Homo sapiens: one gene and its partner. The protein of the gene in region 1 purifies or fractionates together with the protein of each later gene. This does not show direct contact. Each region holds a gene or a part of one and is shown on either strand. Other genes may lie near its edges.

Region 1 (3,159 bases):
TAAAAATACATGCTTACTCCTGTACAAACATCGAACAATGTAATTAAATCATCACTACTTGAAATACTTTTACATGAATAATTTATCTCTTTACACTGTTGAAGCCTTGCATTTCAGTATGTTCTACAGCTTCTGTATCATCACCTGAAATTTGCCTAAAAAAAAAAATACAAATAATTCTTTGATTTTAGATACAAAGAAAACAAGTCTAAACATCAATTTTCTGTTCCATATAGGAAATAGTTTCAGTCAAGAAATCTGCTATGTCAAAAACTTTTTCGCATTCTTCATAATATTCAATAAAGTCAATTCTATTTTTTCTTTTTTTTTGAGATGGAGTCTTGCTCTGTTGCCCAGGCTGGAGTGCAGTGGCACGATCTCTGCTCACTGCAACCTCCACCTCCTGGGTTCAAGTGATTCTCCTGCCTCAGCCTCCTGAGTAGCTGGGACTACAGGCGTCTGTCACCACGCCCAGCTAATTTTTGTATTTTTAGTAGAGACAGGGTTTCACCTTATTGGCCAGGCTGGTCTCAAACTCCTGACCTCATGATACGCCCACCTCGGCCTCCCAAAGTGCTGAGCTTACAGGTGTGAGGCACCACACCCGGCCAGTCAATTCTATTTTTATGGGATGATTATATGGTTTGTTGAGTAAGCACTTTTGTTTCTCTTTATGAATCCTACATTTGGGTACAGTATTTCATGGCTAATGATCATTGTAAATTGAAAAGAAATACAATAAAGCTCAAGTCCATTTTTTCTTGGTTGGTAGCTCTGGTGAAAAGATCTTTAGGGAGACATTTAGTGATAAAAGAATATTTGGTTTTACTTAGCTTGATATAATAGACATATCCTAAACAATTGTTTAAAAATAGCATTTTCGGGCCGGGCGCGGTGGTTCATGCCTGTAATCCCAGCACTTTGGGAGGCCGAGGCAGACGGATCACAAGGTCAGGAGATGGAGACCATCCTGGCTAACACGGTGAAACCCATCTCTACTAAAAATACAAAAAATTAGCTGGGCGTGGTGGCAGGCAACTGTAGTCCCAGCTACTCGGGAGGTTGAGGCAGGAGAATGGCGTGAACCCGGGAGGTGGAGCTTGCAGTGAGCCGAGATTGTGCCACTGCACTCCAGCCTGGGCAACAGAGCGAGACTCCGTCTCAAAAAAAAAAAAAAAAAAAAAAAATAGCATTTTCAATGTTCTAGGGAAATTTGCTATCTTAAAACACTGCAGGAGATATTCAGAAGAATATCTTTAAAAAAGTTACAGTTTGAATAACTTTAGAAAAGTTAAAAATCATCCCTTAAATTGTCTTATAAATTTGGATTTTAGTCCATTATTCAAAAATTACTGAAAATGAATGTAGTATGCTACATATTACTACACTAAAGTGTTACATTGATAAAACTAAAATGAAAGTTTCAGCATTTTAAATTTCCTCTCAGTTAAATTAAAAAAAAAAACAGACCTGAAAACAAATTACTAAAACATTTGTAAGAAAGGCGAATTCAACTTACAAGCAGGCATTGAAGACACTTCAGCTGTTACAATACTTTTTATTCCCAAGTTTGATAAGCCACCTCTGATTAAGCCACACGTAAATGCTAAATACTAAAAGGAAAAAAAATCATTAAAAATAGTAAGGATTTACTAAAATAGTAAAGCTATTGATAAATACAACATTACATGATTTATCATCAGTAAGTCATTCCTGTTTAAAAAAAGGATTTTGAAGAACTGTTCAAATTACTGAAAAATATTGATATATTTCCCAGCTCCCTGGAAACTAAAGCATGGACGTAGGACTTAAGACTTAAGCTCAGCCAATTAAGTACTCCAGTCCAGGACTGTGAATCTAGACTCAGTGACAAAAACAAGCCAGAAACTGATCAGAATTAGTTCTGGAGGCAGTAAAGGTAGTTTGTGTCTACAGTCCCTGCTGCCTGCAGGATTCTAAGTAGATACAGTCTGCAGAGTGACTTGGCTATCTTACTGGCTGCCTTAACCTCCCCTGGTTATTGCCTATTCTTTGAGCTTATCAATTTTGTTAGCTTACAAGCAGAATTTCTTTCCCCTATTTACAACCAAGAATCTTGACTTGTTCAAGACTTATAGCTTGCCACAACAAAGAATTATCTGGTTGAAAGTATCAACAGTTTGGACGTTGAGAAACCCTGTCATATAGAAACAAAGAAAGGGAATAGGGCTGAGCTACAAAACCAAAAGTCATGACAAGAACTGGATTGAAAAATTAGCAATTCAGGGAATTTTTGATTACCCACATCTATACTGCATGATGTTCAACATACTACATTATCTACGAATAATATAAAATATTATCTTATAAATAATATACATAAATGGGCACTAATAAGTAACTAGATCTGAGTCATGAAATTTTAAGCTGGAAGAGGCCTTAGAGATTGTTCATCCCAAGAGTTCTTAATCGGGGAATTTGTGACCCCTATGAAAATAAAAACCATGTATATGTGCGTATTTATGGGGAAAGGTGTTCCAGTTCTCAAAGATGTCCATAACTCAAAATAGTTAGAAATCACTGAATTGGTCCAACTTACTCTTTTCACAGCTGAAGAAACCAAGATCCCAAAAAGTTAAGTGAGAACCAGAAATATTAAACTAAGAAGTTAGTAAAAAAGAGAAAATATGCCAGGCATGGCCTATAATCCCAGCACTTTGGGAGGCTGTAATCCCAGCATTTTGGGTGGCTTTTGTAATCACGTCTGTAATCCCAGCACTTTGGGAGGCTGTAATCCCAGCATTTTGGGTGGCTTTTGTAATCACGTCTGTAATCCGAGCACTTTGGGAGGCTGAGGTGGGTGGATCACGAGGTCAGGAGTTTGAGACTAGCCTCGCCAACATGGTGAAACCCTGTCTCTACTAAAGATACAAAAAATTAGCCAGGCATGGTGGCGCACACCTGTAATCCCAGCTACTCAGGAGGCTGAGGCAGGAGAATCACTTGAACCCAGGAGGCAGAGGTTGCAGTGAGTCTCACACTCTGTCCGAAAAAAAAAAAAAAGAGAGAAAATATACACATTAACCATAAAAATGTAATTAGAGCCTGGATACCCCAAAAATATAGAAAATAGGCAATCAGGCCGGATGCAGTGGCTCACACCTGTAATCCCAACACACT
Region 2 (3,749 bases), on another chromosome or scaffold:
CTCTCATCTTTGCCCCGCTCCTAGGGGCCTCTACCACGGGCATGGGGAGTGAAAGGTTCTTGAACAAGAAACACATTAATAAGGAAGGAGAGATTCAGGGTGTTCCCCAGGCCATGGAGAAAGATAAGGCATCCCCAAATCCCCTATTTCCCTTCTCCAGCCTCACATGAAACACCAAACAATTCAGCAAAGAAAGAAAGTGGCAAATGAGACAGAAGATGCTGAAGAAGAATGCTGCCATCCCCTGCACCCGCCCTTCCTTGCCAAATCCCCTTTCCAATTGCAGTACATAGTGGCATTAACCTCACAGAGCATCCAACAGATGGCAGTGGGCTGTCTGGAGGATACTGGTGGGAGGGTCCATAATTTGTCCCTTAGACCCTCTTCTGTGACCCAGCTCTCTCTTCTTTCTGGTGCTTGGACAAGAGAAGCCTGGGGCCAGGGCCTTTGTTAAGAGGCAGAGCCATGGTGCCAGGATCAGGCAGATCTGGCAGCACAGGGCTGCAGATGCAGCTGTGGGGGAAATGAACGATGGTGTCAGAAGACCAAACCCCATACAGCGTGGGTTGGGCCAAAGGGGAATTCAAGGGTTCCCTTCTATTTACTTGAGAATTGAGGGAACATTTGAGATAAATTCAGAGGACAAGAGCCACCTCAGATGTAGGCAAGGGCAGGGCTTGGGGCAGGTGAGGGATATCAAGGTTCGGGAAGCTGCCAGCCTTAAGTCGTTCAGATTTAGAAAGACAAGAGCTCCCTCCACACAAATAAGGTCATAAATTTGAGGTAGGAGGGTCAGAAAGACAAATATCTATAGCACACACTGATTTGCTTTCTATCTACCCCTCCCTGCCCCCAACCATTCCTCACGGTCCCCATTTATCACCACAAGACTTCTATGATCCCAGTTCCTGTCCTGGCATAAGGTCCTGTTCCTCACTCTATCCCTGGGAGTGGTTCTGACTTGAAATTACATGGTTTATATCCTGTGCCTCTCTTTTTCAGGCCTGGGAGAAAGCCGTTTCTTCTGCTCCCCTGGCTCTCTCACTGAAGGGAACTGACTCGTTTTTTCCTTTTTCTTTAGAGAGGACCATCTTGTGAGGCAGGGACACACAGTGCTCAGCCAGTGCTGGAGTTGCGGGGGGGGGTGGGCTGCGGTGCAGAGGCTGAGCAGGCAGGAGGGCAGGTGTCTCCGCAGTGAGGCAGAAGGGGAGGGGGACCGTTTGGGCAGCTGCAGTTTGCCGCAGTGTGTGAGTGTGCGCGCTGAGCTCCGGCTCCAGCTCCGCCCCCACCCCCCACCCCAGCATGACAAGTCATTTTCTTGGCTGCTTCTGCATGGGGGGTGGGGATGGGGGGATGCAGAGAGAGAGAAGAAACTGGCTCCTCTGTTCAAGAGCCCCCATCTTGGGAAGAGAAGCAGAGATGAGGTGGGGGTAGGGCTGAGACTGGGAACCTGTGGGGTTGACACGACTGGAAATGCAGGGCAGCCGCTGGGGAGGGAGTTCTCCGTCTCCAGAGTGGCCTCGGCAGGGCCAGAAAGGGGGGTTTAGAGTCCCATTCTAAAGCTAGCCGCAGGGAATAGGGTGGGGGAGCCCACTGCAAACCGGTTGGTCTGTAAGGAGGCGCGTGCCACGTCTTAGTGACCCTTTCCTCCCTTCTTTTCCATAGTGTCCCCCACCTTCCCTTACTTGGCAAAAACTCACTGCCCTGCTCACCCCCAGCATAGGAGCAGCTGAGCAATCCAGCAGCTGACACCCAGGGGCCCTCCTATTAGGCACATTCCCATAACATCCCCCTTTCTCTCAGATTCTTCTGCCTCTGACCAGAAACATAGCCCCCAAACTCCTCCAGCATCCTGGGCTGTCAGGCAGAGCCAGTGGCACCACCCTCTGCTGCTGTCCCAGGCTGATTTCTCCCATCCCCGCCCAGCTGGAGAGGTGGACTGTCACAGCCCCTGGTGGCCTCTGGTTCTGGGTCCAGGCTGGGCCCACAGCCAGTAACGTTCATCTTCTCTCTCCATTTCCCCATCCTGCCTACTGCCACTGGGCTAGTTCTAGATGTGCCAGATTAGGTACCAGCACCCTTTCCATGACCCCCATCCCACCTCCCTATCACAGTGTACCCCCACATGCCAAGCCCTTTGGTTCGGTTCTTACCCTGGGGTGTAGGAGGAAGCCTCTCATGGAGGCGGCAGCTCCGGCCTCAGCCGGCAGCTTCAGGGAAGAGTCTGCAGCACTTAGGGTGGGAGTGGGGCGGGCGGTGGGGGGGGGAGGGGGGTGCTTGATGAGGAGGGCGGCGCCAGGGCGGGGAAGAGGGGCTGGTCCGTGACGAGGCACTGGAGACTTAACTGTTTCTTTGCCTTCACGACGTCTGAGCTCCAGTGCTTTTGCTTGGCTCTGTGGGGCTGAGGGATTGTCTAGCAGCTCAAGGAGCCTCTGCAATGTCCTATGGCCCATAGGACCTTTCTCTCCCAACCCTGCTTAGTTAGGAAATATTCTTTTGGCATCAGCCAAAAGACCAAAGCCCCATGCTAGGGCACAGAGCGAGGCTATAGGAGGCATGGGCTGCGTGGGCTCTCCCCCTTCTCTTAGAAACCATCTGCTGCCTCTCTCCTCAGATGGATCCAGGGAGTGACCTTCAGTCCCTGGAGGAGCAGGAGACAAAGGCTGGGGGCCCAAAAGCATGGGGTAGGTGTGGGGAACTGCTTAAGACAAAGGTTGGGGATGCAGAGATGTGCTGCCTTCTTCTGAACCTCAGCACTACAGAAACCAAGGAGGGCAGAAATAAGTCTTATTTTAGGGTTAGAGGGTAGTTTGAAATTCCGGAGTGGACACATGGTCCCTAGCCTGTTGGGGTGGGGCACAGGGACCCTGAGAGCTACATGAAGTTTCATGGGAATGCAGCATAACACAGTAACCACACAGGCACTGATTCTTGGGATTCTTGAGTCATTGGATATGAAGAGACAAGTCCCTGAAGGGACAGGGAGCTTTCTGCCTTACAGTGAAGGAGTTAACAAGGACCAAGAAGGATCACCAGGGCCTCCGGCCCAAGCAAGGTTGTAGGCCAATTATTAAATGTAACAGAAGTACTCTTTAGATTAAAAAAACCCTATAATGACTTTGTAGGGTGATTGGGTTCTTGCTCTCTCCTTGTCTCTTTGCTGTTTCTATATTATATTATTTGGATCTTTCTAATGTTGATCCTGTTTCCCTTAGTCTCTACCTCCATCTCAGATTTAGTAAAGCGCTCTAGGACTCAAAGGAAGAATCTGGAGAGTGGTAGCACTTCCTTCCAACCCGAGGATGCTCATGCTCTTACATAGTCCTTCCCTGCCCTCTTCCCATCCACCCTCCCCAGTTTGGCCAGCTCCTAAGGCCTTCCTCACAATCACAGCCACCCACTCACACCCAAACACTAGCCCCACCCTTGCCCCAGGCTGCCAAGAGTTACTTTTGAAGGTCAGAGAAGCCAAAATAGTCTGTGCTCTCAGCATCCCCCATCCCCCCTTAATTGCAGCCAGAGGAGAGGAGGAGCTGAGTCACTAGTACTCTTGGGGGTTGAGGGGACAAAAGGGGAGCAATCCTTGCTTAGATCCGGGGATGCAAATCTGCGACAATGGCAACAACCCCGTTTGGGTAGAAGCGGCCATCTGCAGAGATACACAGGGAAAACCAGGCTGAGTTCTGAGCATCACAAAAGGGAAATACCCCTCTTCTGCAACTTCATCGTTCTTATTTCCTCCCACCTCA

The links. Proteins that work in one complex are often made in the same cells at the same time.
Region 2: the proteins of TRAPPC6B (region 1) and MAP1A purify together in Homo sapiens (affinity purification with mass spectrometry; one large-scale study listed by BioGRID and IntAct). This does not show direct contact.

What each region holds. Positions count from the first base shown.
Region 1 is NC_000014.9:39,150,227-39,153,385, forward strand, and holds part of TRAPPC6B (trafficking protein particle complex subunit 6B), read right to left. Parts: intron 1,614-3,159; coding exon 1,520-1,613; intron 156-1,519; coding exon 124-155; 3' UTR 1-123. UniProt on the Homo sapiens protein: Component of a transport protein particle (TRAPP) complex that may function in specific stages of inter-organelle traffic.
Region 2 is NC_000015.10:43,516,105-43,519,853, reverse strand, and holds the start of MAP1A (microtubule-associated protein 1A), read right to left. Parts: upstream 2,247-3,749; 5' UTR 2,154-2,246; intron 1-2,153. UniProt on the Homo sapiens protein: Structural protein involved in the filamentous cross-bridging between microtubules and other skeletal elements.